Regions from separate parts of the Homo sapiens genome. Here all the other regions are linked to region 1. Evidence: fine-mapped expression QTL. A gene starts in region 1. Each other region holds a variant in brackets. All regions are shown on one strand. Distances are from middle to middle.

What was found. PIP is the estimated chance that this variant, and not a neighbour inherited with it, causes the effect. A credible set is the group of variants that fine-mapping cannot tell apart.
Region 2: its variant is the best candidate, but not a certain one, in a credible set for the expression of DMAP1 in thyroid (GTEx, PIP 0.55).
Region 3: its variant is the best candidate, but not a certain one, in a credible set for the expression of DMAP1 in whole blood (TOPMed, PIP 0.53).

The regions. Positions count from the first base shown.
Region 1 is chr1:44,211,300-44,215,452 of GRCh38, reverse strand. DMAP1 (DNA methyltransferase 1 associated protein 1) reads right to left here and starts at 1,982. Exons shown (of 10, transcript NM_019100.5): 1 at 1,595-1,982; 2 at 1,012-1,103; 3 at 555-750. The coding sequence starts at 1,699. RefSeq lists enhancers at 137-636, 637-1,138, 1,904-2,143, 1,882-2,176 and a silencer at 2,574-2,673.
Region 2 is chr1:44,232,442-44,236,594 of GRCh38, reverse strand. All of the region lies in intron 8 of ERI3 (ERI1 exoribonuclease family member 3), which reads left to right. The region is part of intron 2 of ERI3-IT1 (ERI3 intronic transcript 1); the gene reads left to right. Among named protein-coding and RNA genes, the nearest start is that of ERI3-IT1, 9.8 kb to the left of the region's middle. The variant A/C (reference allele first, on the strand shown) is at 2,419.
Region 3 is chr1:44,365,438-44,369,590 of GRCh38, reverse strand. No RefSeq gene overlaps it. Among named protein-coding and RNA genes, the nearest start is that of ERI3, 12 kb to the right of the region's middle. RefSeq lists an enhancer at 635-1,167. The variant G/C (reference allele first, on the strand shown) is at 2,315.

The sequences.
Region 1 (4,153 bases):
AAGACTAAGTCAAGGACGATCCCCCAAGTTTCTGGTTTGGGCAACTGGGTGGAAGATAGTGCCATTCACTGAGATGGGGAACAGATTTGGGACTGACAGAGGGAAGATGATGAGCTCTGTTCAGGGTACCTACCTGATGTAAGGTACCTGTGGGGCATTGAGAAAGAGATATTAGTAAATGACTGGATGCGAAGGAAGCACTGCTCTGGATTGGTGACTTGTAGAGAGGGTAACTGAAGCCACAGGGTTCATACTAAGAAAGTAGAGAACAAGAAGACTAGAGCACCTAGGATACAGCTCTGAGGAACAGCAACATTTGAAAGACCAAGAAAAGCCATGAAAAACCAGAGCAGGTCCGGGAAAGAACAGGATCCCTTGGGCAGAAAAGACCCACAGAGTCCTACTCTGCATGCATTTGCCACGAGGATTGAGTGGGTAATCACAGTTGGGCATAAGCGTGCCCCCAGAACCAACCCTAGGAGACTGGAGAGCTCGCACAAATGGCTCAAAGTGGGAGGGCAATCTTGGCCTGTGTCCGAATGAAGGTAGCTTACCTTATTGAACCTGGCAAAGGGGTAGTCCTTGCCCTCCTCCGCTGCACGTCGCCAGTGGAAGAACATTGCTCCGTCCTTGCGGGCCGGGTTGGTGAATGGCATCCACTTCCAAGGCCGCACCTTCTTGGAGCCCAACTTGGCCTTCACTGTACGGTATCCCTGGCCAGTGTCACTGGGTAGCAGTGGGGGTGCATCCCTGGCAGGGAGGTTTAGGGAGATGCGAGGTTAGAATCAGAAGGTGTGTTAAAGAGCTTTTTGTCCCAGGGAGCTGATCTACCCTACCCTATAGCAAGAAAGTCATGTCCTGGAGCAAAAGACTTCAGGTCCTCCTGCATCCTGCTAAGCAAGCAGGAGCCCTTGCTGGGGAGGAGAAAATTGTTAGAGAAAACTAGGAGTTAGGGGCATGGCAGGTGAATCAGGGGCCAAAACCTGGGGGACTTGGGACTCCAATACTTGCTTCTTGTCAGAGTAGAGCAAGGCATAGACTTCCCGGTGCATGCCCTCGGGCCTCTTGAAAGTCAGTGTCTCAGAGGACTTCTTGGATTTTTTCTGAGGAAGGAAACCACAGAAAGGAACCACAACCTAGACCCTTTCCTGAAAATTCTTTAGTCCAGCTCAATCCCTGAACAAAGCAGCACCTACAGGGTCAATGACAGGCAAACTGACACACTGTAAAGGCACAGAAACCCACTCCCAGGAACACCATCCTACGCCCAAATCAGAGCAGTCCCCTCCCCATCCCACCAACTCTCAGACTGTTACAATGTCTTGATCTCTCCCCAACAATATCTTGCAAAAATCACACTTGCCTGGTCCTCTCAGCTCTTAGAGGTGTCATACCCTCTTGGTCCCACCATCTCCCACGATGTCCCATCTCCTCCCTCCCATCAAGGATGACACATATTCCCTGTCCTGTTATGTCACCCCTTTTATCGCCCAACTCACTGTAAGTGTAGCACCCATCCCTTGCCCGTTGTCACTCCTCCCCATCTTCACTCCCCTACCCTCCCCTAGTCAACGCTTTCAGGTGCCCCTGCTACCTTGTCCGGGTTGATAATGTCCTTCTTGCTGATGGTCCCAGAGGCTGCATCCCCTTCTGGACCCCCGAGTTCTAGAATGTCCCGTACATCCGCGCCCGTAGCCATCGCGCCTGAGAGATGGGGGAGCCACCGGAGGTCAAGGGTCAGTGCCTGAAGAAGGACCAGGCTCAGGTCAGGGGGCGGGGCCAATCCAGACCTAAGCGGAGGCGAGTTGAAGGGGCGGGCCAAGAGGAGAAGGGTGGTCCAGGTCAGGTCGGGGATCTGCCTGTGCCCCACCGCTTGGATGTTCCTAACGGCCCCTTCAGCCACCTGGGCCCTCGCACTTCCGCACCTGGGTCCGGCAGCTGCAGCCCCCACTACCACTCCCCCGTCCCCGCAAAGCCGCGGCAGAAACTTCCGGCGGTGCTCATTCGGAACGCGGCCGACAGAAACACTTCCGGTCGGTGTTGTAGGAAACGAAGCCGACTGGCAACCGAGGGTGAAAGCTACTGGCCGTGCTGAGCTTGCCACCCTTTGGTTCTCCCGCGAGCCTGTTTTCATTGGTGCACTGCCTGCTTTCTGGCATTTTCCCTCTACGATGCTCCGTTGCGTCTCAGGCAGTGAAGAGATACCAGAACTTTGTGACTTTGGGAAGTCACTTAATTTCTCTGGACCTTTTTCTTTATTTGCCGAATGGAAATTGTAATGGCACCTGTGTAAATGAAATACCAAGAATCCTTGTAAAACATTAGCACGGTGCGTGGGACATTTACTATTTTTTTATTAAATGAGTTAATGATTTGAATTGCCCCCTCTTCATTAAGTGCTAATATGTACTAGGCACTGTGCTAAGCTTGGAGGTGAAGAGATAAACTTCAAATTGTGATAAGCTTGAAGATGAAGAAATAAAGGCAGAGCTTCCTAGGGCGGCTGCCAAAATGGAGTAAGGTGTGGGCCCTCATTTGCACCTCCTCTGATGGAGATAGCTGTGGGTTGTGGCCTCGTGGGGATTTCCTGGAGGCCAGCTTCGTGGCACTTCACTAGTACAGGAGCTAGCTGCACTCTTTGGGCTACGAAGAAGCCCAAAACACAGCCCCAAGCAGGAACCAGCTTAGAAGTATCCCTCAAGGGAATAAACCTGGGGATCTTCCTGGAAAGAGAGAGACAGGAGGTCCTGAGGAAGGGCACAAGGGACAAGGAAAGCAGCTCCCAGCTTCAGCAGTCTGCAAACCAGCCTGTCAATTTGAAGGACACATAGCCTGTGGGATAGGGTGGGGCTTGTTAAGGCATTAAGAAGGCCAGACCCCAAGTCGAGACCTGCCAAAGATACCAGCAGGGACTAGAGGAGCAGACAGTTTGCGCAAGTTAGCTATAAGTGGTGTAGCCTGTTCTGGCCTGGAGAAGACAAGGGGATACAACAGCTGTAGCCACAAGCCTGACTAGTCCCCAAAACTTTGGAGAACTAGGCCTGGAGGTACAAACCTGTTCCTGGGTCTGATTCCTGGATGGATCCACTGAGCTCCAAACAGTTGCCGGAGGAAGTCACAGTCTTACAGCAGAAATTGTCCACAGGGTAAGGAAATGGTCCTTGGAGCCAGAAAGGGAGAGAGCAATTGGCTGCCTGAAACACTTGACCCTAGTTGTAGTTAATTAATTGTGTAATTACTTGTTTAATATATATCTCTAATAGACTCATTTCTGTGAAGACAGGGATCACAGTACATAAAGGAATGTATGTGCCAGGCACTATTCTAGACTCTGGGCATGCAGTGGGTGAACGAGATACAAATAGCTACTGGTGGAGCTTATATTTAGTGGAGAAGGAGAAACACTAAGGAAATAGACAATAAAATTGATAATGTAAGTTTTGATGGTAACAAGAGCTAGGAAGGAAATGAAATAGAGCGATGGGATGGAGAACTGCTTTCCATAATCTGGTCAGGGAAAGTTAGTGGTCTCTCTTTTTTTTATAAATGTGTATATACATAGAAAAAATTCTGGAAAGGACTAAACTGAAATGATTCCATCACTTGTTTTTATCTGGCAATTTATATTTTCTATACTTTCTATAATGAATGTGTACCTCTTCTATAATAAAAGGAAGGAATGAAGGGAAGAAGGAAAGGAAGAAGGAAAGACAGGCAGACTGTGCGCTGTGGAAGGTGGACCAGGCCAGAGTTTAGGAGACTAGAGGGCAGTTGTGACTATCTAGGTTAGAGGTGTTGGGAAACTGAACTAAGGTTGTAGCAGTGGCAATGGATTCCAGATATTTAGAGAAAGATGACCATGTTATCTGCAAATAATGACAAGTTTATCCCCTCCTTTCAATTTATACCCCTTATTTCTTTTTCTTTTAGCATTTTCCAGTACCTCCAGTAATTGGTTAAACAGCAGGTGTGGTCGTGGGCATCCTTGTCTTTTTCCAGATCTTAAGGGGGGCGCATTTAAATTTTTTCTATTAAACATAACATTTGCTCCAGGTTGTTTGTATATACTCTTTCCCAAATTAAGGAACATTCTTCTTAGTTTTCTAAGAGTTATTTATTCCTTAAGGTGATCATCTTTAGCAAAAAAAAAAAA
Region 2 (4,153 bases), 21 kb before region 1:
GGCTTTATTTTCCCCCAGAGCCCCATATTTCCACCCCACAACCTAATTAACTCTTCCTCATCCCTCAGAGCTCAGCTTAAAGTTTGCTTCCTCAGGAATGCTTTCCCTGACTCCTAGACTTGATCAAGTCCCCCTTTCCCCGTGTACTTTTTCTCAGCACCCTGCTCTCCCCATTTGTAGCATTTAATCACAGTTGTAATTAAGAAATTATTTGTTTGAAAGTTGTTTAATGCCTGTCTCCCTCACTAGATTGTAAGTTCCCTGAAGGCAAGAAATGTCTGTTTCATTTGGCTTATATCCCCAAAGCATAGCACAGTGTCTGACACGTATAGGCAGATAGTAAATAAAATGTGCTGTTTGAATTGAGTTAAATTGAGTTGAGATGGCCCTGGCCCACCCCTGGGTGCCAGGGCAGGGGGAGGCAGCTAGGGAAGTGCCTGGAGCTGAGGTGGTTCCCATTAGTCCTCATGATTAATTCACAGCCACACTGTGATAGAGTGGGCTTGTCCCCAGTCAGTGCCTCCACTGGGGCCCACCTGTTAGCGACAAACAAACAAAGGGGATAAATAATGCATTGGGAGCTGAGCCAGGCAAGGCGGCGGTATTGAAATTAATAGGGATTAGCTGAGCAGCTTGAGGATGAAATATTTACCAGGTGGGACACGGCTTAGGGAGGGCATCCCCCCTTCCCAGAGTCCCTAGGCATAGCTAGGCCTTTCTCCAGGGCATCACTGGCTAGGACTGGGGCGCCCCAGCACCACCACTGCCACCCTTGACTGCCTGGGTTTGCAGGACAGGCTGGCCAGACAGATGAGAGCTCAGGTCCTAGCCAGTCTCCTGGCACAGTGAAGTCCTGGGGAAACCAAGATGCTAGAAGGGAACGGAGGTGGGGAAGGGCCTGAAACCTTCAGGGCTTTGGAAGCTGGAGACAAAGACCATGACAGGGTTTCAGGGCCTGGGCATGTCAAGGCTTTGGGTGGCAAATGTCAGGGCTGGAGTAGGTTTGCGTGTGATCTTGCCCCTCTTTCTTTTCCTCTAGTCCTTCCTTCCTTCTTTTCAGTATGTATTTCTTGAGTGTCTCTGTGGATAACACCTGTGCCCTCAAAGAGTTCATGGTCTAGCAGGAGGTGAAGGAGAGGCAGTTACGATAGGCGGAGAATTGGCTGCTGTGGGAGCACACAGAAGAGGTTCCTAACACAAAGGCGGGATGGGGGGAAGGCACCTAGAGGAAGCACTAGCAAGCCTGGGTCCTGAGAGGTGAAGGCAATGAGCCAGGTGAGAAGTGAGGACTTGAAAACTCAAGGTGCAAATGAGCCTGAATTTGGCTGTACAACAGGGGAGTGGGACTGATGAGACCAGAGATGTAAACAGGTCCAGAACTCAGACTTTTATAAAGGGGTTTGGATGCATTGGGAGCTGAGTCAGGCAAGGTGGCAATATTGAACTTAATGGGGATTAGCTGAGCAGTCCTGAGAGCAGTGAGGAGCCACTGGAAGTGGTGCTGGTGGTGGTGGTTTTAATTTTTGACTCTTAAACTTTTTACTTTGAATTAATTTTACATTTGTAGGAAAGTTTCTATGTATCCCTTACCCAGCTTTCCCTCATGTTAACATCTTACATAATCACAATACAGTTATCAGTACCAGAAAATTAACATTGGTACTGTGCTACATTAAAGGGCCTCTTAGGCCGGGTATGGTGGCACACGCGTGTAATCCCAGCTACTTGGGAGGCTGAGGCACGGGAATCGGCTGAACCTGGGAGGCGGAGATGCAGTGAGCTGAGATCACGCCACTGCACTCCAGCCTGGGCAACAGAAAGAAACCCTGTCTCAAAAGCCTTATTTTAATTTCACCAGTGTTTCCATTAATGTTCTTTTTCTGCTCCAGGTTCATTGAAGGGTTTGTTGTTGTTATTGTTGCTGTTGCTGTTTTTTGAGACAGAGTCTCATTCTGTTGCCCCGGCTAGAGTGCAGTGATGTGATCTCGGCTCACTGCAACCTCCGCCTCCTGTTTTCAAGTGATTGTTCTGCCTCAGCCTCCCGAGTAGCTGGGATTACAGGTGCCACCACGCCCAGCTAATTTTTTGTATTTTTAGTAGAGATGGGGTTTCGCCATGTTGGCCAGGCTGGTCTCGAAATCCTGACCTCGTGATTTGCCCACCTCAGCCTCCCAAAGTGCTGGGATTATAGCGTGAGCCACCACGCCCAGCCCGGGTTTTAAGACAGGGAGTGAAATGACCAGATTGGTGGTTTAAAAGGACACCATGGAAGAAAGATTGGCAGGGGCACTGCCGTTACCTAGATGGGAGATGATGGTGGCCTGGACCAGGATGTTGGTAATGGGAACATGGGCTTAGAAATTATTGAAAAATATATGGTAATTAAAGCTCCTAGAAATTATTGGAAAATATATGGTA[A/C]TTAAAGCTCCAGGAGGGGATAAGTTTGCCCACGGAGAGAGAGTGAGAAGGGAAGAGACCAATGACAGTTCTGAGCAACATCCATATCTAAGAGGTGATCAAAAGAAAGGGAGTGTTCAAAGGAACCAAGGAGAATTGCATGAAAAGTGAGAGTGGGTCACTGAAGCCTAGGGAAGAGAGCTTCAAGGAGTGGATTGTTCACCAATTGTCTATCAATCAAAACCTGAAAAGCTTCATCCTCATGAGTCATAGGGATCATTAGAGAAAGCAGTGTTGGTAGAGCAGTGATCAGATCGCAAGGTGGGAGATGAGGAAATAAGATCTTGAGTGTAAACAACTCTGAAGTTTGCCTCTAAAAGGGAGGAGAGATTGGGTACTAGCCAATGGAAAAGGGAGTTAAAGGGAGACTTGTTTACTCCCAAGATGGGAGAGAATTAATATATTTACATGCTTATGTGAAGGAACCAATGCAGAAGAAAAAAGTGAAGCTGTATCAGTGGAAATAGGAGTACTCAATAATGTGTGGACCCTGAAAAGGCCTGGATTCTGGGTTGGACCCTACCCAGCTGGAGTGGAGGGATGGGCTTAGAAAGTGACATCAGGCAATTAGCTGGGCGTGGTGGCAAGAGCCTGTAGTCCCAGCTACTCTGGAGGCTAAGGCAGGAGAATCGCTTGAACCCGGGAGGCAGAGGTTGCAGTGAGCCGAGACCGTACCATTGCACTCCAGCCTGGACGACAGAGTGAGACTCCATCTCAAAAAAAAAAAAAAAAGAACGTGACATCAGGCTTGGCCCTCTCTTGTGACAGGAGGAGAGGACTGGGGCAAACTCAGGAGAGTGGCTTCTGTGTGGCTCCTGTGGAGTAGGAGATAAGATTGTTTGCATGGGTGAGGGGTTTGGGGTGATGTTGAGGGCAGGGGATTTGAGATTTGTGGAAAGTAGAGAAACTTGAAATTGTCACTATGGGTGAAGGGAGAGAGAGTGCACACTGATCAGGAACACTGGAGATTGGCTGGGCAGTTTTATATACCCAGCTGAGGCTGATGACTCTGATTTTGTAAGTGGCACTAGTCTATATGGTTGTGATTTTCTCTAGTCATACGCTCCAGGTGGCAGGCACAGAGAAGGCAGAGTCTGGGTTTTTCCAGGCAAGGGTGACAAGGAAAAGGGAATAAGAGAGTTGAGGATTGGCAAGAAAAAGACTGAAATGATGGACCATGCAATCCAGGCTCCAAAGGCAGACATGTCAGTTACGTTGCTAGGACAGAAACTATGACTTTTCCCTTCTTTTTCACTAAATAGAACCCCTGTATAATTATAGAACCGCTGTATAATAATCAGTGTGTACCTAGTTAAAAGACTACGTTTTTAGTTTTCCAGACAGCTAGGTACAGCCATGTCTCTGAGCTCTGGCCGGTGAAACAAAAGGAAATGTGTTGTCTGGGACTTGCAGGAATGATACCTAAAGGGAAACAGCTCATCTGGGAAATACGCTATTCTTGCCTTTTCCCGTCTTCCCCCTTTCTTTTTCCTGGAATGTGGATTTGATGGTTGGAGCTCCAGCAGCTATTTTGGACTATGAAATAGTCTGAGGATTGGAAACCACATGCCGAGAATGGCAGGGCAGAAAGAAAGAAGAAGTCTGAATAGTCTGATGATTTTGTGGAACTGAGGGGTGTTTAGTCAACTTATATTGCAAGCCATACTCATAGAATGCCTTTCTTAGTAAAGCTATA
Region 3 (4,153 bases), 150 kb before region 1:
GCAGTCAGACCCATGGGCCAGGTTTTTTAATTCAGCCTGGGAATATTAACCACCACAATAATAATCACTTACATTTAGGCTGGGTGCGGTGGCTCATGCCTGTAATCCCAGCACTTTGGGAGGCTGAGGCAGGCAGATCACCTGAGGTCAGGAGTTCAAGACCAGCCTGGCCAACATGGTGAAACCCCATCTCTACTAAAAAATACAAAAAAAAAAAAAAATTAGCCGGGCGTGGTGGCGTGTGCCTGTAGTCCCAGCTACTCAGGAGGTTGAGGCAGGAGAAACTGCTTGAACCTGGGAGACAAAGGTTGCAGAGAGATAAAGGTTTCAGTGAGCCAAGATCATGCCACTGCACTCCAGCCTGGACAACAGAGCCAGACTCCGTCTCAAAAAAAAAACCCAAAAAACACTTACATTTAGTCAGCACTTACTGTATGCCAGGCCTTGTGTCAAACCCTATACAGGAACGATTTTCTTTCATCCTTGGGGCAACGCTACAATGGAGGCCCTGCGCTAGCACTGGAGGTGGAGAATGCAGTTGACATGCAGCCGCAGCTCTTTCGGGAAGGATTCTGCTGCCCCTTGACTCCCCCAGCCTCACTTGTCCTACACAGCCAGACCACTGCAGGACCTGCTGCTCTGGCCTGCCTGCAGCTTTGGGCTGGTTTCCCTTGCCCGTTTCCTTGCCTGAACAGGCATCTCCACCAGGTCAGCTCCTTCCCCTCAGCTTCCCTTGTTCTTTTCCTGGCCTTGGCTCATGCTGTTCCTTCTGCCCAGAATCCCCCTTTCCCCTTGTCTGCCTGGTGAAATCCATACTTACCAAGCCTTGCTTTAATGTCATCCTGACCTCCCTGCCCTCCCCTGTCAGGATGAATTGCTCCCTCCTTTGTGTTGCTGAACAGCACTTATCGCAGAGAACTGTAGTTACTTGTTTCACCACTCAGTCTGGGAGAAGAGACGGCAGAGACTGGTCTGATTCACCTCCTTGTCTCTAGGGCTCGGGGGCTGCCCAGTGTTTGACGAAGCCCATTGGGATTGGAGCGGGGGCTGTGAAGTTTGGCTGAGGACATCTCTGGGATGCGACCTTGGTTCTTCCTGCATTCTGATCTCTAACTTCTCTCTCCGTGGTTTGCCAAAACTGGATTTCAGAGACTAAGACAGGATCTCTCCCTCAGCTGGAATATGTTGACTGTCTCTCCCCTCCAGAAGAACCTCTTTCTTTGGTGGCCAACTTGTTGCCTGTGTCCTGCCTGGTATCCCCTCCAGCCTTGGTGCTCCCAGCTCTCCCCCATTTAGCAGCATCTGTAGATTTCATTAACTTGCTACTTAACCCCTCTTGCTCAGATCAGCTGTGAAGATGATAAATCAGGCCCAGGGCTCATCCCTGCAGTGGCCTTCTTCTCCACACCCCTCTCTAACAAGCCTCTGGCTGCCCCTATTCATCACCAGCTGCCCTCTCTTTCTTCTGCAGTTTCATGGCCCCCCCTATTCCCCTCCACCACAGACCATGTCAGGGTTACAGCCCAGCCACTTTGGATTGAATTCTGGAACCACACTTGGAGACAAACCCTGGAGCCTCACCCAGGGGCAGCAGGAGGTCGTAGGCCCTGGTTGGGAAAGGATGGGGAAGGCTAAGGGAGCACTGGATCCCCTTTCTAGCCATGGGACCAGGTTCATTTGTGTTTAAGAAGGGGTAGGGCCGGGGTTAGATTGGACCTGTATTCTCACTCCCTTACTCAAGACCTCACCGAATCTGCTATTCTGCTCACAGGGAGGGCCACCTGGACCTCAGTGGAATACCGGAGTTAGGTCAGTGTGGCAAGCAGTGTGGTTTGTCTGGAACTTAGCAGAATGGCTCTTTTTCCTCCTGGGTGGGAGCCACCCTGGCTCCTTTCCTAAGCTCTGCCTAGACACTGACTCCAATTTTCCTTCTTCCATGTGTTACCTTGCCCTCTCCTCTTCTAGACTCCAGGTCTCTCCTCTTGACTTCTTTCTCTTTCCTTTCCATGCCTCATCTCCTATTTCCTTCTCTTAATTTTTTTCTAGGTATAAACTCCCTAGAAGGAACCATCCTAGATGTCAGGGGCCTAAGCTTTTTGTAGTTCTGAGCAGGGCCTTTCTGCTTTTTCCCATCCCCCAGAGATCCCTCCTTTCCTGGGTCCCCTTTATTTCTACATCTGCCCCCATTCTTGCTCTCCTTTTATCCCCCAGTTCCTCACCTTCATTCTCAGCCTTCACAGGAGACAGTGTCAGAGAATGTGGAGCATCCTGCCCAGGCTCACAACAGGTTCTTGAAAAACATCCATTAAGCCCA[G/C]ATTGGAGTCTCCCCATCTTTGTTTCTTCGTCGTCCCTTCCCAGGCCCTGGACGATCCTCCACCCTCCCTGCTTGTAAGCAGGAGGCCCCTCCACTGGCACCCTCCTTCTGTCCAGTGAGGGGCAGGGGCGTCCAGGCCTCTGGAAGCTCATTCAGCCCCTCCCCGCATGTGCGCTTTTGTCAGGTGCTATTTCCACAATGTCTTCATTACCTCCTAATTGGCCAAATCTCTTTTCTTTATTTTTCTTGTTAAAGACAGATTTAAAGAATGAGTTCAGCAGCTCAGCCATTTTCAGACCATCATTAATTTCCCACCTTCTTATTTATTAATGGGGCAACTTCCTTGCTGGTATTTCTTATTCCCTGGATATCTCTGTAAAAGCCTGCCTTGCTCGTGCAACCCCTGGGACCAGTGCTAACTCACTCTGACTTTGTGCTGCCCTCAGCTGCTCTGCAATTCCCTCCGCAGCCCTGCTGCGCTCACAGTCCTACCACCCACAGCTTGCAGCGAGGAGAGTCTAGAACGCCCCTGCATTCTAGGCACAGAGGCTTCCTTCCTCTGCACAGAGTGGAACGAGACTCCCAGTTCTCTCCTCCACCCTTACCTTCTTCCACTGTATTCCAGGTCCTACACTAAGCTGAACATGTACAGTCTCATTCACTCAAGACCTTAAGGAACAAAAGGGGAAGCAGAAGCTCAGGGAGCAGCAATGACTTGCCCAGAGTCACTTTGCTCAGAAGAGGAAGAATCACGAAGTGAGCCCAGGTTTGCCTGGATCCCTGGCTTGAAGTTTACCTCTATGCCAGCCCACCTCAGGGAGGAGGTTATGGTTAGGATAAGTCTTGATACAGAAAGAGAAATGAGGACCAGTGAGACAGCAGCAGCACTGTGGGAAATAGCAGTTGGTGACCTGAGGATTAGCAGGACTGCAGTCAGCAAACTGTGTTGGGTGACCTGCCTCTCTCTTTTGTACCTTCACCTCTGTGGGTTCTACAGTTAAAGGACTCGTGTTTTAACGGCGATGTTACTAACACTTGGGAGCAGTTACCTGGGAACCCTCTGCATGCCTCTGAAGGGTAAGCCTGTACACACAGCTCCCACTGAGTCCTTCCAAATGGATTCTCGGTAGTTGCCTTTTAATTCTGGTTCTCCAGGAGCCTCAGCCCATTTCTCCAGGTGAGTGGGCTAACCTGCTGCTGTCCATGCATGAGTGTAGGTGAGAGTCGGTAAACACTGGACTCCTTGAGCTGACAGCTACTGCCATGGAGCCCAGGTCTTGGTCTGAGCACATGCTTAGTCCACTGATGGTTCCTAAACCTTCTCTAATATGAGTGACAAGGACTTGTGGTGCAGTCTTGTTAGGATTCCTCCTTGGGTCTTTCTATAATCAGAAATACTCTTATTATCCCTAGGCTCTGAGCCCAGACTCCAGGTGAGGGCCTATTTTGCCCAGGGCCCAGTGGCTAAGGCTGCGGCTACCTCCACGTTGCTGGTGAGTGGTGAGATGATGATGAGGACAGTGATCCCTCGTCAGGGTACAGGCCTAACACAAAGACAGCCTGGAGGTCTCATGGCTGCCTCCAAATGCCAAGTCATTGCTTTTCCTGTTGGAAATGGAAGCTTTGGGCAGGCCCTTAGGAGGCTCAAGGGAAGAGAGAAGAGAGAGAACTCAGAGCAGAATCTTCCTGCCCAATCTGGAACTTCAGTGGCCCCCCAGCAGCAGTAGCCCAGGAGCAGCAGCAGTGCCAAGAAGGAGTCCCCTGGGACCAAGCCCTGGAGCTGTGTTTTTACACTAAAAGACCTTGTTTCTTGTCTCGTCCTGGTCATAACCCTGCTTA